Homo sapiens: one gene and its partners. The protein of the gene in region 1 interacts with the protein of each later gene in a biochemical or structural test. Each region holds a gene or a part of one and is shown in the gene's direction. Other genes may lie near its edges.

Region 1 (7,109 bases):
CCTCCCTGGTTTGAGCGATTCTCATGCCTCAGCCTCCCAAGTAGCTGGGACTACAGGCATGCGCCACTACACCCAGCTAATTTTTTTTTGTATTTTTAGTAGAGATGGGGTTTTGTCTTGCTGGCCAGGCTGGTCTCGAACTCTTGGCCTCAAGTGATCCACCCACCTGGGTCTCCCAAAGGGCTGGGATTACAGGCATGTGAATGCAACTTTAGACTGGGTAAGTTATAGTTAAAAGAATCCTGTCCGGAAATTTAAGAGTTTTGTGACTTTGTGTAACCAATTTTTTTTTCCTAGCCCAGGAAATAAATGATACGTAATTCAAACCCAGAAAGCCAGGAATGTGTTTTTGCCCAGCACATTTTCTTTTTTATATTTATGTGAACTGCCCTTTATTGGAGAAAGCTTTGATGTTCGGTTTGTTAAGAAAAGGGAGCTTTGAGGGAGAAAATGTGTATTTTATGCAGTCCTCAAATTAAGAGAGAAAGAGATATTGATGGTAGCTACTTAACTAGTTTTATGGGAAATAGTATCCAATGTCACAAGGCAGTTGAGTAGAATGCCATTTGGTTTTAGCACCGATATTCAACATATTTACTAAAGAAAACTATGGTAATCTTTTTATCACAGTTAAGGTCCAGTTTCTTAATTTCATTCTTATAATTTTAAAATCCCTAATCTACCATGTTTCTGTAAAACATTTCCTTACAGTTTTGGAATTATGTGCATGTTTAGGTCCCTTAAATCTTTTTTTTTTTTTTTTTTGGAGACACATCCTCACAGGCTAGAGTATAATGGCACAATTTTGGCTCATTGCAGCTTCAACCTACCAGGCCCAGGTGATCCTCCCACCTCAGCCTCCCAAGTAGCTGGACTACAGCCACACACCACCATGCCTGGCTAATTTATTGTAATTTTTTTTTATTTTATTTTGGTAGAGATGGGGATTTTGCCATGTTGCCCAGGCTGGTCTCCTGAGCCCAAGTGTTCTCCTGCCTTGGCCTCCCAAGGCCATCCCAAAGTGCTGGGATTATAGGCTTGAGCCACTGTGCCTGGCATAGGACCCTTAAATCTTGATAAGACTGAAACGCTTGGGTCAGAATTCCATGGATTTTAGACAAGAATCCTGCTTGTTTCTAGACTGTATTTCAAAATGAATATCAAGTAATCTTTGTTATATATGAGAAACTTTTCTGCACACCGACCCCTAAAAAACAAAACATCCTTCGTTCTGAAATTAAAGTGTGAGAGGTTTGGAAGCTGAATATGAAGTGTTTATAAATGACCCTTGTCACCTTTCTTACTCTCCATTTCTCGGATTCATTCTGTTTTTCATTTCATCCATGCCTTTCATGTCTGGGGTCAAAAAAACTGGCAAGCAGAAAGGGTCTTTTGAAGCCAACAGACTACTTGTTAAGGAGGTATTTTAAATGAAATACCCCCAAAGTGTCTTTATTACCCCTAGAAAGATACTTTGAGGGGTAAGAAATCATTGTAATTCAGGTATTTAAAAAGTCAGTTAGAACATCTGTTTTGAAGGGCATTGAGGCACCTTTTAGTTTGACACAGTACGGTGCTAATCAAATTAATAAGCTGTCTTGGAAAGCTCTTGTGAGTGCATTGAGTTGTTACATATTCAGAAACTTCCTGTCAGGTGTTTGACACAAAGTTTTATTTCTAGAATTAACTTTTAAAAAAATCTAGTCACCCCATGCTCTCAGTTTTTCTGACTCAAAGCTTCCTCGGAATTTGGGGCTATCATGAACTGTCCAAGATAAAGATTATAGTCCTACATTGGCATGCCTAAATCTAGGAAATTGCCTACCTCTAATTGAATGCCTGTGAGATAGTGCCTTCTACTTGAAGTATATAGAAAATAACCCTTGCCTGAACAATTTCATTTCTAACAATACTATTAGCATTATGACTAAAAATAATTAATATACATTAAAAGCCGAATATGCCTACATATGTGGTAAGCGTAATAATCGGAAGAACAGAGATAGTCACTTTGTGCAGAGTAACTTTAAGTGAAGCAAGTAAACTTAATGACAATAAAAAGGCCTGGTTGTGTGATTAAAGGAGATGGATACATTTTTGCATCTCTAGGTAATTTTTCTTTTTGGTAATTTTACAGATTCTTTCTGTAGCAAATCTTTTTACCATAGTTAAGGTCCATTTTCTTAATTTCATTCTTATACAAGTATTGCAAATAGCCCAAGGAGTGTAAAAATAGGATCCATTCTTCTCCCTCTTGGTTTTCCCAGAAGGTGACATCACTGTTTATCCGATGACTGAAGCCAGGAACCCAGGGATTCCTCTGGCCTGATTCCTCTTTCTTCTTCATTTCCTTCATCTCCCCCATATTCGGTCCATCAGCAAGCTTTGTCAATCCTACCTGCAAACATTCTGTCTTTATTTCTCACATCATAACACAGGTCGTCATTATCTCTACCTGGATTTTTTAGCAGCCTGGTTATTAGTCCCCTGGTTTCTACTCTTGTTCTCCTACAGTTTGTGCTCCACATTGGTGCCACAGTAGTCTTTTTTTGAGACAGAGTCTTGCTCTGTCACCAGGCTGGAGTGCAGTGGCGCGATCTCGGCTCACTGCAGCCTCCCAGGTTCATGCCATTCTCCTGCCTCAGCCTCCTGAGTAGCTGGGACTACAGGCGCCCACCACCAAACCTTCCTAATTTTTTTGTATTTTTAGTAGAGATGGGGTTTCACCGTGTTAGCCAGGATGGTCTTAATCTCCTGACCTCGTGATCCGCCCCCCTCAGCCTCCCAAAATGCTGGTATTACAGGCGTGAACCACCGCGCCTGGCCAGTAGTCTTTTTTTCTTTAACAAAAAGCAAATAATCACTTTGCTTAAAATCCTTCAGTGTCTTCCTGTTGCACTTCAAAACAAAATATAAATCAGTGTATGGTCTATACCTTTCTGTCATTCTTTTCTTTTATTTTCTTAGGCTCTTCAAGCCGTTTCGTATCATTTTTCTACATGCTTTTTTTATCCTTTGCCTGAAATAGTCCTCAACCAGTTTTTTTCCTGTATCTGGCTGGGTTCTCAGTCTTTAAGTATCCAGTAGAAGTTCCTCCAAGGGGCTTTCTTGGAATCAACATTCTATCTGAAGTTGTATTCCACTATTCATTCCTTATTAGAAAACCATTTTCTCTTTATTCATAACGTCATAATTTAATTTTTAGTCTATCTTCCTCAGTAATAATTTCTGTGAATGCAGGGATTGTAATACTCAACTAACGTTTAGGGACTAGGAGAGACAGAATATCTTCATTCCGAATAACGGCTTTTTCACCATTCACATGTTCAGCATTTCAGACTAAACTAAAGAATGACGGTGTTACTGAGATTTGGAGTTCCACAAAAGTAGAAGTGCTAGAGCCAAGAACCTGCTGATGATATTGGTTGTCCTTTGAAAAGAAGCCCTCTTAGGGCTTTGGATGTTTGTTCTGACAATATCAGTAATCTAGTTGCAAGGAACTTGTAGTTATTATATTTAAAGTCATTTCCCATGAAATTTATATTTGAAGTTTTCTAATTCTTGGTTACGCACTCAAATCCCCAAATGGAAATTCAATTCTGTCTTTTTATTTACAGAATATACTGATGATAATGCTCTGATTCCTAAGAATTCTTCTGTAATTGTTAGAAGAATTCCTATTGGAGGTGTTAAATCTACAAGCAAGACATATGTTATGTAAGTATCAAATCTCATGTATTTCTCAAAATAGACTTTTTTTAGTTTTTTTAATTTTGTGAGAAAAAACTGTATTTTAGAACTGAACTCATTACTTTAACCTTAATGAATACATCTTCTCAAGACTGTGAGGATAGTAGGTTTCTTTGTTCGTTTGTTTTTGATTTCCTCCCCCAGTTAAATTGACTTAGCCTGTTGTGAGAGGGCCATTATTAGGAAAAATTTTTCTCCATATGGCCAGTATTTACAGATACAAGAAAGTGATATTCACATTATTTCTGTGCCTTTCTTTGACTACTTTTTTTTGTGGGGGTTCCTTCAGTTTTCTTCACTACAAAAATTTGGTGTTGTAGACATCGGTCCTAAATATTTTGACAGCATCAAGAGTATTCAGTAATGCTAACATTTACTCTTTATCAATAAGGGGCTTTGGCTGAGAGGCATAAAGTATATAGGATTTATAATCATGGGCACTGAAATCAGGCTTAGATTTGACTCCATTTACTGCTTCATACCAGTTGTGTGACTTTGGACCTTGGGTAAGTCTCTGTGCCTCAGATTCCTCAAAAATAAAATAGGGACGTGAGTACTTAACTCTAGAGGGTTGTAAGAATTAAATAGTGTCTGGCACATGCTAAATGCACATTATTGGAGTAGGAAGAGAGCAGTCTCACAACTAGTCCGGAGCTGGTATTCACTAACCTGGGGCAGGATTAAAACCTTATATCCTTAACTTTCTCTGCTTTCTTGCAATTTCAGTAGTGATAGCAGAACTATAATATGTGAAAAGGGCAGCAACATAGGTTATTTAAAGAGTAGTGATTTTCACTTAGAATTAGGTAGTATTGTTTGAAATTGGAACAAATTATTTTGAGTCAATGAAAAATTCTAGAATTTGCCAGTGCTAGGGAATGGAAAGTGTTCTTGAAATTAAGGTAAAAATAAAGTCATTTCTTGGAGCTTTACCTCATATGGGCAAGTATTCTAAGATTTTTCTCATTAGTTTGTTGTAAAGTTATATTCCATATCTTAACACTTAGAGGTCCTTTTGTGCAGTATCTTCCATATAATAGCTACTTTAAAAAGCTGAATACTTTCCTTGTTGTAATTGCCAAGTGAACTTTTAATGGTGTGTGTTCTTAACTTTAAATGATTCTAAGAATTATATATATATGTGTGTATATATATATATTGTTTTGTTTTGTTTTGTTTTTTCCTGAGATGGAGTCTCACTCTGTTGCCCAGCCTGGAGTGCAGTGGCACAATCTTGGCTCACTGTAGCCTCCGGGCTCAAGCGATTCTCCTGCCTCAGCCTCCCAAGTAGCCAGGATTATGGGTGCCCACCACCAAGCCTGGCCAATTTTTGGATTTTTAGTAGAGACTGGGTTTCACCATGTTGGCCCGGCTGGTTTCAAACTCCTGACCTCAGGTGATCCACCCAACTTGGCCTCCCAAAGTACTGAGATTACAGGCGTGAGCCACCGCACCCAGCCTAAGAATTATAAATTTATGGGGAGAATTAATTCCTACAATCCAGTGTGAAATTTTACTTTAATTTACCAAGTGCTTTTTAAAAAATGGCAAATGTATTTTCTGTAGATTTTTTGATAGAAACTCTTAAGAATTATTTGAAGTACATGGCAAAATAAGTTGCCTCTTACACAGAATTATATGTTAATGTACAATATATAGGGTTCTGTTTGTAATAAATTTGCCTCATAAAATGCATCTCAGTTTTTTTTTGAGCAAATACTAGAAAATCAAAGCTCAGTTTTTTTTTTATCTCAAATTCCAAATTATACACACACCTAGAAACTCCTGTTAGATGCTAACATTTCTCTATAGTCAAGATACCTTAAACTTTAAGCATTAAAAGGCTATAATCTAGCAACTCAACTTCTTCCCCTTTCCTGTGTGGATTAAAATAATTTCTTTTGGGGTTTATGTCTTTTAAACATCAAATTGTCCAGTTCTACACAGCCATTTAAGTCAGTTCTTTTAACTAAAATACTCTGATTATATTGTGTTTTTCTGGGAGTGAGAATTTTTGTTCAGTTTTTTTTTTTTTTCTGTTTTTAAGAGATGGGGTCACTATGTTACAGCCCAGGTTAGTCTCAAACTCCTGGGCTCAAGTGATCCTCTCACCTTGGCCTCTTGTTCAATCCTTGATTGTTGTTTTGAGACATTTGAAAAATGAAAATAGCTATCAGCCTGGCCCTCCAGATTTGAAAATTAGTTTTGGGAGCACAGCAATTTCTCAGGGATTCAAATTACAAATGTTAACAACAGCAGTCTTCCTGATGTGTGAAAATTTACGCATTCAGAAACTGGGAAATTATATAATTTAAAATTTTCAGTTTATTAAGAATAAACTACGTTTCTAAACATAAAATCCCTATACTACCTTTCAGAAAACATTTGTTTTAAGTGGCAGGGTACACCTATTTTTGAATTCCCTAGTATGGAATTTTTTTCCAAACCACAAATCTATCTTAAAACTGCTCAAAGGTGGTAAAGATTAATCAGAGTAATTTATTCATTCAGAAATTGGCTGTTAAATATTTATACCAAAGGAAAATTAGGTTCCTAAAAATGTATTATTGAAGATAATGTGTTAAAATTTATTAGCACAAAAATTCATAAATAGCTAATGTTAATTTTTGTTTTTATTTTGTGTTTTAGAAGTCGAACTGAACCAGCGATGGCAACTACAAAAGCAGTATGTAAAAACACAATCTCACACTTTTTCTACACATTGCTTTTACCTTTATAATGTAGCAGTGAAGTAAATCATTTTAGAACTTAATATCCAACTGATCATAGTACATATTGTAAATAAAATGTATTTTGATGACAGCTCAGTTGAATATGGATAATATGTGGCATCACTTGCACACTTATTTTGTAGAAATGGGTAATTTGTGCCCGTAACACTGTTTCATATTAAATATGATAGCATTATCCCTGTATGACACTGTGTTGTACAGTTAATGTATGATCCTTTTTAGATCGTTTAGGTTTTACACTAAGGAACATGATGACATGTTCTACATTTGTCTGTCTATAGTTAGTATTTTGTATGTATGTACAGGCTGTTGTGTGCTTTTTGTTTCTTGCAATAAAAAATGTTTGGAGTGTATATTTTGCCATTTTCACGTTGTATCACTTAGTTTTTGTTAGTTTTTTTTTTCCTGCCTGATTTATGGCTTCCAAAAACGCATTAGCAACATGCAAAGCTTATATTAAAGTTTGATGCTTTCTCCAAGTTCAAACACATCATAGAAAAGAGCTTTCCAGAGACCATTGATGCAGCTTTATTATTTAGTCTTGCTTTATTTGGCATTTTGAGCTCCTTCTTTTGTTTACATCTGTACTATAAAGTGAAACCTGAA
Region 2 (7,109 bases), on another chromosome or scaffold:
AAACAGATCAACATCAATAATCCCTTTGTTTTCAAACACATTAGTAACCTCAAGGTGAGTGCTTGTGGAAGAAAGACAAGGATGGATAAAACCAAATCAGTCATTAGTAGTAGGAGGTACGAGGCCGTGAGTGATGGCTCACAGCTGTAATTTAGCACTTTGGGAGTCTAAGGCAGGAGGATCACTAGAACTCAGGAGTTTGAGACCGGCCTGGGCAAGATAGTGAGACCCTGTCTCTATCAAAATAAAATAAAAATCGTAGGCAGTGCTTGTCAGTGACTCTGGCTGAATTCCTCTTGCTGGAGTCTTACCGCTTCTCAACAGGTGTCGTTTTTCTGCAGAAAATCAAAACTTCAGCAGCTGACATTCTTTTTCTGCTTCAACAGATTTTGCCACTTGCCCCAAGTAGCCATGTGTTCTCAGTATTTATAATACTCATCTCTTTTGCCGTAGGCATAAAAAGTTCTGAGGAGAAAAATATTTTGTATTATGTATTTAAGTTTCTCTTCTCACTCAAACCAAATCATCTTTTTGATTAGTGCTGCAAATTCTATATATGAAAATTTTTATATACTTTTCTGGAAGCATTCAATAAAATCTGATTTTATTTAATTTAAAAAATACTGTTTAACTCGATGCTTGAATCATAATAAAATAATTGATATCCGAAATAATTTAAAAGTGGACTTCCAGTTGTAAATAGGCTTTGTTCATAAAGTATTTATTTTAAGTTAACTGCTTAAGGATTGTAGACAAGTTCTCCCTAGAACAATGTTAAACCTTTTGATTTCCAGGCCAGCTCAAAACATGCATGGAGCATGCAAAGCTATTGTGAGTCTTTGGGAATATTTTTTCAGAGTTGTGTCTTGGGTAGATCAAGACCCATTTGACTCTTCCTTTTACTTTTCTGCCTGCCTGCTAGGCGCTGAAGATGGTCCTGATGGTTCTGATGGCCCTCTAGCTACCAACAGAAGGTTTTGAAGATCGGGGTGAACTTACCGCTTTTTATTACTTGGTTTTTCTACCATTCCTAGCCTAAACTGTTTAGGAATTTGGCAACTGAACTTAAAATGTTTACAGATCTTGTGAAGGCTCTTTCAGTGATGTGATTAATCTCTTAGCCTTTTGTTATTCTTTAAAAAGAAAGAATGCTTTGTCAGCTGCTGGTAGCTAACATACTTTTCCCATTCTGTTTTCTCTCTTAGAGCATGGATCATTTTGATGACATTGGTCCCAGTGTTGTAATGGCCTCCCCAGGCATGATGCAAAGTGGCTTATCCAGAGAATTATTTGAAAGCTGGTGTACTGATAAGAGGAATGGTGTCATTATAGCGGGATACTGTGTAGAAGGGACACTTGCCAAGGTCAGTTACAGTCATAGGCTGTTGTGTTATTCCTATTCAGAATCACGGAGGTGGCACGGTCCTCACAGGTTTTTGCACTGAAGTAGTTCTTCAAATAATACAAGTTTTGATTTTTAAAAATGAGGACGGGAATAGGTAGCTAGAGATGTGCGTAGGATGTAGAATTATGCAGACACTGAATGGCATAATGAGGTCCCAGGTGATTGATATACACATTAAAGTTTGAGAAATGCTCATCTGGTTGCAAGTAGAGAAGAATGGACAGGAACCTGTTTGAGACAAACACGTGAATACTCTCCGTCCTCTCATGAAGAAGAGGTTGACTAATACATATGATCTTAAAAAGCTGTAGAATGTGTTTGGGTTGACCACTTTCTACTATTATGAAACATTGATTTTCAGCTCTTAGGGATGTAGAAATTGTAGAAAATATATGCAGAACTTGGGAGGCAGTTTCTGAGCATCCAGGCATCACATTCTCATCCTCTATTTTATTTTTAAAAATATGATATGATTCTTTGATAATCTTTATTACTTTACCTTATTCTATAAAGTTCTTTAGTGACAATGTTGTATTTAAAATAGATTTCCAGGCTGGGTGCAGTGGCTCACACCTGTAATCCCAGTACTTTGGGAGGCCAAGGCGGGCGGATCACCTGAGGTCAGGAGTTCGAGACCAGCCTGGCCAACATGGCGAAACCCCGTCTCTACTAAAAATACAAAAAATTAGCTGGGCGTGGTGGCGTATGCCTGTAATCCCAGCTACTCGGGAGGCTGAGGCAGGGAGAATTGCTTGAAACTGGAGGCGGAGGTTGCAGTCAGCCGAGATTGGCGCCACTGCACTCCAATCTGGGTGACGGAGCAAGACTCCATCTCCAAAAAAAAAAGAAAAAAAAAATTTCCAGGCCTGGCACAGTGCCTCACATCTGTAATCCTAGCACTTCAGGAGGCCACAGCAGGTGGATCACTTGAGCTCAGGAGTTGGGGACCAGCTTGGGCAACATGGAGAAATCCCATCTCTACAAAAAATACAAAAATTAGCCAGGTGTGGTGGCACGTGCCTGTAGTCCTAGCTAGTTGGGGGACTGAGGCAGGAGGCTTGCTTGAACCCAGGAGGTCGAGGCTGCAGTGAGCTGAGATCGCACACTGCATTTCAGCCTGGGTGACAAAGTGAGACCCTATTTGAAAAAACAAAGATTTTCAGAATAGAAATATATCCACATATCTAGGAAATGACTTTGGAGAGCACAAGAATAGTTGGGAATACAGGTTTGTCTTTCTAAGCATAAGAGTTATGATTCTCACTGCCAGCACTCCAGATAGATGAGTTTTAGTTAATTTGTTTACTTTTCTCATTAAATGTTTGCTTGATTGAGAACATGAGTATTTGATATTTACTGAGTCAGTTATATTAGAATGATTTTGTGCGTAAGGTCCTAAATTTAACATGAATTTATGACTGCATGAAAAAAATGAAAATGTACCTTTACGATTATAACTGGGTAGTTTGTTTTGTTATTTTTCTTTATTTTCCACAGCACATCATGTCTGAACCTGAAGAAATCACTACTATGTCTGGACAGAAGTTACCACTGAAAATGTCTGTTGATTACATTTCTTTCTCAGCTCACACGGATTACCAGCAAACCAGTGAATTTATTCGTGCTTTGAAACCGCCTCATGTGGTTAGTCTATGAATTTCATTTATTGTATTAAAGGGAAAAAAAGTGCATACCCAGGAAACTGTGCAGCAGGCAGTTCACAAAGCAGGCATCATCACCTACTAATGCGACACCCCCTGAGCAGAGCCTTTCACATGCACTCGGATTTGGCCTTTACAACTCCCCTTTGATTTCAGCAAGCTGCCCCCTTTCTCCAGAACTGACTGACTCAGACCTACCAACCCCAATCCTAATGTTTTTCTGTTATTTTCTGCTGCCTCTCCAATAATTTAAGAGCCAGGCTTGGAGTATGACTGCTCATTTGGAATGCCAGCTCCATCTCTTACTTACTATGTAACCCTTGGCAAGTTACTTAACCTCTCTGTACCTCATTTGTAAATAGGAATAATAGCTCATAAGGTTATTGTAAGGATGAAGTGAAAGAACATATCTAAAGCACTTAATATGGTGCCTGGCACATAGTAAATGCTTAATATATATATTATATATATATATATATATTTTTTTTTTTTTTGAGGCGGAGTCTTGCTCTGTCACCCAGGCTGACTGCAACTCCGCCTCCCGGGTTCAAGCAGCTCTCTGCTTCAGCCTCCTGAGTAACTGGGATTACAGGTGCCCACCACCACACCCGGCTAATTTTTGTATTTTTAGTAGAGATGGGGTTTCACCGTCTTGGCCGGGCTGGTCTTGAACTCCTGACTTCATGATACACCCGCCTCGGCCTCCCAAAGTGCTGGGATTACAGGCGCGAGCCACTGCACCCGGCCGACTTACTTATATTTTTAAGTATCGTGTAACTTATTAAAAATAAGTTAGATATTTTGATGGAATTGGAAAGGAGGGGTAAGCTGAAAAAAGTGTGTATTTTTAATTAGAAGAACACTAATGAAGCATGTGTCCATAGAAAATAGATGACGTGCCCTTTCCAAATGTATTGGAAAGCAGGAGAAATGGCCTTTTGTTAGTTTTGTTTGTTTGCTTGTTGTTTGGGGTGTTTTTTGGTTTGTTTGTTTGTTTGTTTGTTTGGATGAAGTCTTGCTCTGTTGCCTAGGCTGGAGTGCAGTGGCGCCAATCTCAGCTCACTGCAGCTTCTGCCTCCTGGGTTAAAGCAATTCTCCTGCCTCAGCCTTCCGGGTAGCTGGGATTACAGGCACGTGCCACCACGCCCAGCTAATTTTTGTATTTGTAGTAGAGACAGGTTTTCACCATGTTGGCCAGGCTGTTCTCAAACTCCTGACCTCAGGTGATCTGCCCGCCTCGGCCTCCCAAAGTGCTAGGATTACAGGCATGAGCCACTGCACCTGGCCTTGCTTGTTGTTTTTTAAATACGTTTTACTGTGGTAAAATATCTAACATAAAATTTGCAGTTTTAACCATTTTTAAGTGTACAAACCAGTGGCATTAATTATATTCACAGTGTTGTACAACCATCACCACTGTCTATTTTCACAGCTTTTCATCACTCCAAGCAGAAACTCTGTACCGTTACACAGTAACTCCCCATTCCCTTCCGCCAACCCTGGTAATCTCAAATCTACTTTCTGTTTCTATGAATTTGACTATTCTAGGTATTTCATATAAGAGGAATCATAATGCCTATGATGTTTTCAAGGTTCATCATGTTGTGGCATGTATCAGCACTTCATGCCGAAGTCATGGTCCGTTATATGTAGACCACATGTTGTTTATCCATTCACCTGTGGGTGGACACTCGGGTTGTGTCACTTTACAGCAAATGTGAAGTGGTATCTCGTTGTGGTTTTTATTTTCATTTCTCTAATGACTAATGATGTTGAGCACCTTTTCATGCAGTCTTTTGTTCGTTTTTGAGTTTTTTCTAGCATGATAGGCCTCACAGGTATTTGCCACTGGCCCTTAATGAGCAGATTATTTGGTCAAGAAAAATCACTCTCCTGTCTATAGCATCACAGTGTGTAGGGTTTAGTCACAGAGTAGGCTCCTCCCAGGTGTTTCTTATTGTCTGTGTGCATGAACACTCCCCCAGATTTCCAAGCCAGGGAGGAAAAGCCGAATTGCTCTTTTGTGTGGTGTCACCACCTCATCCTCAGCCCCATTTCATCCTGTCACTCTCCTGGTTCTACTTCTGCTGACAGTTTAAGTTCCTGGGTTGAACTTCATGCTCATTTTCTTGTGATAACCAGCTCCAGCAAAAGTATAGCTGCAGGATAAAATTGCAATACTAGTAGTGTTGGTGGTAGTAATGAATACTAGCTAACATTGATTATTTACCATGTGCCGGACACTGTATATGTGTTTTATATGAACTGACTTGCTTAATCTTCATGACCGACAGCTGTTCTGCAGATGAGACAACTGAGGTGTGAAATCACTTGGTCAAGGTTACACAGCTTAAATAAGCAGCAGCACCAGGATTCTGTTCAGGCAGCCAGGCCCAGGCCCTTCCCCAGCAAGCAGTAAGCCCCTGCCACGTGCTGGTGCTGGCTATGCCCAGCCACAAGCCATCTACCACATGTGAGAGGCTAAGAACAATCTATCTTGGCCGGGCTGCAGTCCCAGCACTTTGGGAGGCCGATGTGGGTGGATCACTTGAGGCCAGGAGTTCGAGACCAGCCTGGCCAACATAGTGAAACCCCATCTCTACTAAAAGTATAAAAATTAGGCAGGGCACGGTGGCTCATGCCTGTAATCCCAGCATTTTGGGAGGCCAAGGCGAGCAGATCACGAGGTCAGGAGATGGAGACCATCCTGGCTAACACGGTGAAACCCCGTCTCTACTAAAAATACAAAAAAATTAGACGGGTGTGGTGGCAGGTGCCTGTAGTCCCAGCTACTCGGGAGGCCGAGGCAGGAGAATGGCGTGAACCTGGGAGGCGGAGCTTGCAGTGAGCCGAGATCACGCCACTAGACTCTAGCCTGGGCGACGGAGCGAGACTCGGTCTCAAAAAAAAAAAAAAAAAAAAGTATAAAAATTAGGTAGGCATGGTGGTTCACACCTGTATCCCAGCTACTTGGAGGCTGAGGCATGAGAATCCCTTGAACCCTCGAGGCAGAGGCTGCAGTGAGCCAAGATCACGACACTGCACTCCAGCCTGGGTGGCAGAGTAAGACTGTCTCAAAAAAAAAAGAACAATCTGTCTTGTAAGATAGAAGTTACAAAAGTGAATGGAAAGGGACTGGTAGCTAATGCTGTTGTTGTAAATACCCTCTAAAATATTCCATTTGGGGCTGAGCACAGTGGCTCATGCCTGTAATCGTACCACTCTGCAAGGCTGAGGTGGAAAGACTGCCCAGAAGTTTGAGACCAGCCTAGACAACATAGTGAGACCTTGTCTCTACAAGAATAAAATAAAACTAGCCAAGCATGGTGGCTCATGCCTGTAGTCCCAGCTACCTGGGTGGCTAAGGTGGGAGGATTGTATAAGCCTGGGAGATTGAGGCCACGGTGAGCCAAGATTATGCCACTGCACTCCAACCTGGGCAACAGAGCAAGACTCTCTTTAAATAAAGAAATATATAAAGTAATAAAATGTTCCATTTGGTTCTGAAATATTTTATTAGGATAGGTACAGTGGCTCACGCCTATAATCCTAGCATTTTGGGAGGCCAAGATGGGCAGATCACTTGAGCCCAGGAGTTCAAGACCACCTTGGGCAATATGTGAGACCGTGTCTCTACAAAAAATACAAATATTAGCCGGGCATGGTGGCGTGTGCCTGTAGTCCCAGCTACGTGGGAGGCTGAGGCAGGAGGATTGCTTGATCCCTGGAGGTTGAGGCTGCAGTGAGCCATGATCACATCACTGGACTCCAGCCTGCGCAACAGAGTGAGACCCTGTCTCCAAAAATATATCAATATATGAGGTAGGCCAGGCACAGTGGCTCAAGCCTGTAATCCCAGCACTTTGGGAGGCCAAGGTGGGTGTCAAGAGTTCGAGACCAGCCTGACCAACATGGTAAAACCCCGTCTCTACTAAAAATACAAAAAATTAGCCAGGCATAGTGGCGTGTACCTATAGTGCCAGCTACTCGGGAGGCTCAGGCAGGAGAATCGCTTGAACTCAGGAGGTAGAGGCTGCAGTGAG
Region 3 (7,821 bases), on another chromosome or scaffold:
ATTGTAAGAATAATCTTTTCAACAAATAGTTATGGGACAACCAGATAGCCACATGAAAAGAATGAATGTGGATCCCTACCTCACACCATAGGCAAAATTAACTTAAAGTGTATCATAGATCTAAATGTAAGAACTAAAACTATAAAACTCTCAGAAGAAAACTCAGGTGTAAATCTTCATGACCTTGGGTTAGATAATGTTTTCTCAAATATGATGCCAAAAGTACAAGTGATGAAAGAGAAGATTGATAAGTTGGACTTTATCAAAATTAAAAACTTTTATGCTTCAAATAACACCAACCAGAAAAGAAATGACAACCATAGACAGGGAGATAATATTGTAAAATATATATCTGGTAAGGGACTTTTGTCTGGGGTATATAAAGAATCCCTAAAACTCAAAAATTTAAAAAAAAAAATTAGGCCGAGTGTGGTGGCTCACGCCTGTAATCCCAGCACTTTGGGAGGCTGAGGCAGGCAGATCACCTGAGGTCGGGAGTTCAAGACCAGTTGGACTTCATCAAAATTAAAAATTTTTATGCTTCAAATAACACCAACCAGAAATGAAATGACAACCATAGACAGGGAGATAATATTGTAAAATATATCTGATAAGGGACTTGTGTCTGGGATATATAAAGAATCCCTAAAACTGAAAACTTTAAAAAAAAAATTTTAGTCCAGGTGGCTCACACCTGTAATCCCAGCACTTTGGGAGGCTGAGGCAGGGAGATCACCTGAGGTCGGGAGTTCAAGACCAGCCTGACCAACATAGAGAAACTCCATCTCTACTAAAAATACAAAATAAGCCAGGTGTGGTGGCACATGCCTGTAATCCCAGCTACTCGGGAGGCTGAGGCAGGAGAATCGCTTGAACCCGGGAGGTGGAAGTTGTGGTGAGCTGAGATTGTGCCATTGCACTCCAGCTGAGGCAATAAGAGGGAAACTACATCTAAAAAAAAAAAAAAAAAAAAAAAAAAAAAAAAAAGCCCAATTTGAAAGATAAAGGATTTGAATAGACAGTTCTCCAAAGAAGATATACAAGTGACCAATAAGCTCCTGAAAACACACTCAACATCATTAGTCATTTGTTAAATGCAGTTCAAAATCACAATGAGATATCACATTGTACCCACTAGGATGGCTATAATAAAAAAGACAGGCAATAACAGCATTGGTGAGGATGTGGGGAAATCAGAACCCTCATAAATTGCTAGTGAGAATGTAAAATGATGCAGCACTTTGGAAAACAGTTTGATAGTTTCTCAAAATGTTAAACATAGTACGATATCACTCAGCAATCCCACTCTTTTGTGTCTACCCAAGAGACATGAATGCATGTCCACAAAAAAAAAACTTGCACATGAATGTTCATAGCAACATTATTCATAACAGCCAAAAAGTGAAAACAACTCAAGTGTTCATCAACTGAGATTTGGATAAACAAAATGTTGTATACCCACACAGTGGAATATTATTTGGGCATAAAAAGGAAAGAAGTACTAAAGTATTCTATGCCTTAGTTCATTTGCTGTTGCTTAAACAGAACACTTGAACCTGGGTAATTTATAAAGAAAAGAAATTCACTTCTTACAGTTATGAAGGCTGAGAAGTCCAAAGTCTAGGGATCACATCTGGTGAGGACCTTCTTGCTGGTGCGGACTCTCTGCCAAGTCCCAAGGTGACACAGGACATTACATGGCAAGGTGGCTGAGAGTGCTAGCTCAGGTCCCTCTTCCTCTTCTTATAAAGCCACAAGTCTCTCTCTTGTGATAACCCATTAATCCATTAACCAATTAATCCATTAATCCATGAGTGGATTAACCACCTCTGAAAGACCCCACCTCTCAGTACTGCCATATTGGAGATTAAATTTCAACATGAGTTTTGGAGAGGACAAATATTTGAACCATATATTGTATGATTCCATTTGTAGAAAATGTCCAGAAGAGGAAAATCTATAGAGACAGAAACTAGATGAGTGGTCATCTAGGGCTGGTAGGTGGGGACAAATGAAGAATGATACCTAATAAGCATGGTGTTTTTTGGGGTGGTGACAAAAAGTGTTAAAAAAAAATAGATTACAAATTACATAATTCTGTAAATACACTAAAACCCATTGAATTGTACACTTTAAGTGAGTGAACTTTCTGATATGTAAATTATACCTTAATAATTTTTTTTAAAGAGAGGGAATAAAATGAGAGAAATCTAAGTCAACAAGTATAGACAAGTCTTCCAAGGAATTCCTTGCATTCATAAAGGTTTGGTTTTAATTACCAGCATTTAACTGCATTTGTTGTAGCAAAGGAGGAGGATGCTCCACTTCACGTAGAGACCAGGGAAGTGCCATTGTACTTACTTCTCTGTATCTCCAAGTGGATATTTTTCCCAGTTCTCTGATTTTATTTTCACTGTTAGTATCAACCCCAGAGCATATAACCCAAGAATCTGTGTCTCACTTAAGCTTACTGATCATTTCTGCTTCTTTTCTTTATTTTTCTGTTCACATTATCCTGATAGGATGCAGGGTGAAGAAATAATCAGCCTCTGTTCATCTTATTAGAGAAATAAATACCTGTGTATATGAAGCAAGCAAGGCCACTGAGTCTTTGGGGAAACAGAGCAGGGAGGTGCCCAGAGGCATTTTCTGCAGAGAAGGAAGAAAAGAATAAACAAGTCTTCTGCCAAAAATGCCTGGAACTTAAAGCGATTTCCTCAGCCCAAGATCAGGCTGTGTGCAGACACTGACAGTGAACCTGATCAGTTGCTGCTGCTCCCTTGATTAAAAGCATGTAGCTTTCTCTCTTGTGAAATTCACCTCTATAAATTCCACCTGCCTAGGGATTCAAACTACATGGAACAAGTGCAATTCCTCAGAGTGGCAACTGGCAGAGCTCCCAGGAACAAGGTAGAACTACACAATGTCCCAGGCATCAGAGGCATAGATTGCCTGAGTCAGGGAGAGTGGTCTCTGTGACCTGACACCCCACCCACAGTGGGAAGGAAAGCTGTGGGTGTGTTATCAAGGAGGCCTCCACAAGGGGCTGGAAATTCCTGGTTTTGTCTTCCTCTTGGAATGAGACATTTACTCTAAGAGAATCATGGAAAAGTACAAACCACAGAATCATAAACCACAGAGGGAGAAGCTACCTCGTAGGTCATTCTTATGCTGGGCCCAGATACCCCGATAAGCAGATGTTCTCTTCTCACCACCCCTCCTCGCCTTTGCTTGCCCACAGCCATTGCCAGGACTCTTCCTCAGGCCCAGAAAGGCAGCTGATTCCTGGTAGGAGGGCGCTAAGAGTAGAAAGTAACTACCATTGTCAGGTCCAGATCTGTTCCCAATCCCTTCTCACTCCTCCTGCACTCTAAAACCACACCACAGTTCCAACTCTTTCTGAGTCTGGAATCTTTGAGAGTGCCGTCATGTCCTTCTTCCTGTAGCCTTCTTGTCCACCCCAGATGGACTGACCCTCCCACCTACATCCATGAGGCCAGAAGGCAACAAAGACAAGCGTGGACTCTGGCTCCCGCCGAGGTACTCTGTACCCCGTGGCTCTCGGATTTTGCATCTACCACATGCCACAGGCTTGCGTCCATCCGACCTCCCTAGTTTCTCATCCCCACTTGAACCTGATGACTGATTCGCCCTCCTGGCTACGCTGAGTAAGCCACCCACTTGCCAAACCTCAGACCTGGTGTTGACGCAGTAAGAAGGCATGAGGCCCATGTTGCCAGAACATTCCTAATTGTTTCATTGTTTCCTTGTAGGATGTGGTTTCAAGTCCCATCTTTGTCTCTTTTCTCCTGGCCAGGTTGCCCTTGGTCAATATTCCTTCATTCACTCCAGCCACTCAGCACCGTGATTAAGAAAACAGGATGTGAGATTAGATGATCCAGGCTCTGCCATGAACTAACTAGCTGTGAGGCTTTAGAGAAGTGTCTTAACCTCTCTGAGCATCCATTTCTTTCTCTATAGCATTAGGAATATTAATAGTACCTACCTCACAGCTTTTTTGTTGTGATAATACCAATAAATGAAATAATCTTCATAAAGCACAGAGGCTTGAATGTTCACTCTAAGTATTTAATATGTGTCCTCTACTATTTTATTTTACAATTATCATTCCTTAATTCATCATATAATTACCAAGCCTCATGCCAGGCACTGAGATATAAATATCCCCTTTAAAGAGTGGTCATGTCTTAAATCCAGGAAGAGCTAGTTCATGTTGGCACCCAGGGTAGGGAGCGAAGCCCAGGGCCACAGCACAGAGGCAGAGGAGAATAGACACTGACCACCAGGAGCTGCCCGGGGATGGTGACAAAAGTGCCTTCCACCTTTCCGCATCTCTTTCAATACCACTGCAACTCCTTGAGTAAGGTGGGCACCACACAGAAGAAGGGGGATGGCAGAGGGGCAGTGAGAGGTCCCCAGGGAAACACCCTCTTCTTCTTCCCTGCTTCTCTGACAGAGCACGGCCATGCCTCTGCCATGCAGGAGGGTGATGTCCTTTGGGGAGGCCTTGTTGAATCTGTCTGGGGCTGTTCCGGAAGTAGGAAGGGCGGCTGGGGGTGGGGAGACGGCAGGAATGTTCTCCTGGCCTGCTGGTCTGTGCCGGCGAGTGTGCTGAGAGGAGGGCCTCTGGACATCAAAGGTTCCTTTTGTCCCCTTCCGAGTGGCAGGGCAGCCCGGCCCGGGCTGCTGGCGATGACTCAGGCCTGGCCCTGACGTCACCCACGCCCGGCCACTGGCCTCCCTCTGAAGCCAGGAAACTAGTTGGGGAGTGGCACTCGCAGCTGCAGCAAATCTCAAAATAAAGAGGCAACGGCCTTTCTCTTCCTCTCCATCTCCCTATAGCACACCTTTTATTTCTTTTCTTCTTTTTTTTAAGCCTCACGAAAGATTTTACTTGTAGATCAACTTTCAAAATGTAGGAAGTCAGAATGGGTGACATCATCAGAAAAATATGTGGAGCTGATCACAAGAAGTGAAGAACCCAGAGCACGAAAGCGGTTGTGACTCCTGGGCCCAGGGAGTTGACAGCGTCTGGGTTTCAGAGGAGCCAGCGCCTCCGAGTAAGTGAAGGCCCACTTTTGGCCCCCCCTCACTCAGCGCCCTTCACCGTAGGGCGCCATCTTGTTCCCTGACGCCTACAGCTTGCCAAGCCCCAGCCCAGAGTTGGGAGTAGGGACTGCATTTGGGAGACCCTCTAAATACGGCCCCAAAGGGATCTGATATCTCTCTCCACAGGATCAGAAAAGAATGCAAAAAAAAAAAAAAAAAACAATACTAAGACGGAAACCCTGGGGAGAACAGCCCAACTGATGCCTTTCCCTGTCAACCCTCTTGTTTTGCCTCCTCTTCCTCCCCTCACCTGAGTATTCCGTTTCAGGCTGTCAGAATGTTTGTTCAGAGTTCTGGATTGTTTGCTTCCTAGATCTTATACTGAGCGATCAGACATAAAAATAAACCCTGTTCTAGGCAAATACGTGTCCTGTGCCATCAAATGGTATTTTCACACTTAACCTGGTAAAATATGACAGCCCTGGTAAAAAGATGTACATAATTGTGCTGCCTTTACTGAGCACGTTTCTGATTGTTCTGTGTATGAACCTCCATTATCTTATCGCCCTGTTTACAGAGGACTTATTTTCATTCCTACTTGTGCCATCGTATCTGGGATGATATTAAGCACAAAGACACAATGTGTCTGTTTTAACTTTGTCTAAAAACTCATAGTTCTTTACAAAGCCTATAATTTCACGACCTCTGGAAGTTCCTACCCAAGAAAGTTAAGTTCCCAAGAGAAAAGTTTTGACACATACATGAGAACAGCACGTAGGCATAGAAATCATACCCTGATTTTCCCGGCTTCTAAGTCATCCCCTGAGTCAGCATCTAGTCTTCGTATAGCTGACGTACCAGGGGAGATCTGTTCTTCAGAAATTCTATGTTAAAATGACTGGGAGCGGGGAGGCGTAAGTCTCATTTTAAAGGCAGTAAGGAAGCTTGTCATTTACTGGAAAACAGTGGCATATTCCTTTGTAAATGGACAACTCCCTTTGGAAATTAACTATCACACACTAAAATATCTGTTTTATAGGCCTTATGTTTTACTTTTTGTTTTACTTTAATATATTAGGTTGTCTTGAAGTGAGGCTCTGCTGTAGTCCTGTTCTTCTGGCTCTAAGATCTGAATGTTGTGACCACTAATTTGGTAAGTGTCATTTGTCCCCAACAGCTACTTAAATTTAAGTCTCCCAATTCTCCTTTTTTAGTTTGTGGTAAGATTCAAAGAAAAGGGGAAAGGGCACAGAGATTTCTGTACACAATGATTACAGCTATATTAAAAAGGATATTAGGATAGGCTAATTGTTATAATAGAACCCCAAATCTATAATGGCTCAAACACAATAGTTTATTTCTTGCTCATGTAACAGTACAGGTCAGTGGGGCAACTGTCTTTCATGCATTCATTCAGAGACACAGGTAGAGAGGGGCTTTGCCTTCTGCAGCATGTGGTTTTCAAGGTCGCCTAGGGGTGTCTCCACTCCTCAGTGCAGTAAGAAAAGAGCATGAAAAAGTGCACATGGGAGTTTTTTATGGGCTCTGCCTAGAAGTGGTGCGTGTTACTTCTACTCACATTCCATTGGCTAAAACTCCATCACATGACCACAGCTAACCACAGAGGAGTCTGGGAAATGTAGTCCTTGGTGGAGCAGCCACTTAGCAGTGACAGCTCTGGAGGGGTTTCTGAAGAAGAGGTAGTTCTCTCTGGCACAGCACATAAAAGAAACTTGGAGATACTCAAGGATAAAGTTGCATAGAAACAGTGGGAGAAGTAAACAATTATCCACATTTAGGTTTTCCTGACTGACACTCTTAGGTAACATCTGGCCATGAGGGCAAGATGCAATGGATGAGATTTCTCAACACCTCTGTCCATTATGACCCTAAGCATCATGTTGCCCATGGCCAGTGAACCATGAAGGACATTTTCCTTATTTCCTTTTACTTATTTTTCCTCTCAGGATCCTCTTGGTCTAGGACTATACTGGCTTTCTCTTCTTCCTGGATCTAGTCATATTAGTTGGAATTGTGACAGAATTCTGCTCCCCCAACTATGAGCCCCAGTGGTCTATAGGAAAGCTCTTGACTTCCTTAGCTCGTAGTTTTCTCTGCTACTGGAGGCTTTGGAAATGTATCCTACAGGATCTGCTCCAGGTCTTGGGACATTTGATCAGGGTGAAAATTCCCGAAGGTTAGACCTTTAAACCAAGTTATTAAACTGTTTTTTCTTTTCTTTTCTTTCTTTCTTTTTTTTTTTTTTTTTTTTTTTTTTGAGGCAGAGTCTCACTCTGTTGCCAGGCTGGAGTGCATCGGCATGATCTCAGTTCACTGCAACCTCTGCCTCCCAGGTTCAAGTGATTCTACTGCCTCAGCCTCCTGAGTAGCTGGGACTGCAGGCACGCACCACCACACCCAGCTAATTTTTGTATTTTTAGTAGAGATGGGGTTTCACCATGTTGGCCAGGATGGTCTCCATCTCTTGACCTCGTGATCTGCCGGCCTTGGCCTGCCAAAGTGCTGAGATTACAGACATGAGCCATAGCGCCCAGCCGAGAAACTTTTTTTTTCTTTGAGACAGGGTTTCACTCTGTCACCCAGGCTGGAGTGCAGTGGCACGATCATGGCTCACTGCAGCCTCAACTTCTCAGGCTCAAGCGATCCTCCCAAGTAGCTGAGACTACAGGCATGTGTCACCATGCCTGGCTAATTTTTGTATTTTTTGTAGAAACAAGGTTTCACCATGTT

Evidence for each region.
Region 2: the proteins of RBBP6 (region 1) and CPSF3 form a complex in vitro, tested with the Homo sapiens proteins (one study listed by BioGRID and IntAct).
Region 3: the proteins of RBBP6 (region 1) and ZBTB38 form a complex in vitro, tested with the Homo sapiens proteins (one study listed by BioGRID).

The regions. Positions count from the first base shown.
Region 1 is NC_000016.10:24,542,546-24,549,654, forward strand, and holds part of RBBP6 (E3 ubiquitin-protein ligase RBBP6), read left to right. Parts: intron 1-3,617; coding exon 3,618-3,717; intron 3,718-6,399; coding exon 6,400-6,436; coding exon of another isoform or gene 6,437-6,490; exon of another isoform or gene 6,491-6,856; intron 6,857-7,109. UniProt on the Homo sapiens protein: E3 ubiquitin-protein ligase which promotes ubiquitination of YBX1, leading to its degradation by the proteasome.
Region 2 is NC_000002.12:9,440,613-9,447,721, forward strand, and holds part of CPSF3 (cleavage and polyadenylation specificity factor subunit 3), read left to right. Parts: coding exon 1-54; intron 55-1,205; coding exon 1,206-1,364; intron 1,365-2,902; coding exon 2,903-3,049; intron 3,050-7,109. UniProt on the Homo sapiens protein: Component of the cleavage and polyadenylation specificity factor (CPSF) complex that plays a key role in pre-mRNA 3'-end formation, recognizing the AAUAAA signal sequence and interacting with poly(A) polymerase and other factors to bring about cleavage and poly(A) addition.
Region 3 is NC_000003.12:141,363,724-141,371,544, forward strand, and holds the start of ZBTB38 (zinc finger and BTB domain-containing protein 38), read left to right. Parts: upstream 1-4,780; 5' UTR 4,781-5,081; intron 5,082-6,148; 5' UTR 6,149-6,223; intron 6,224-7,821. UniProt on the Homo sapiens protein: Transcriptional regulator with bimodal DNA-binding specificity. Binds with a higher affinity to methylated CpG dinucleotides in the consensus sequence 5'-CGCG-3' but can also bind to E-box elements (5'-CACGTG-3').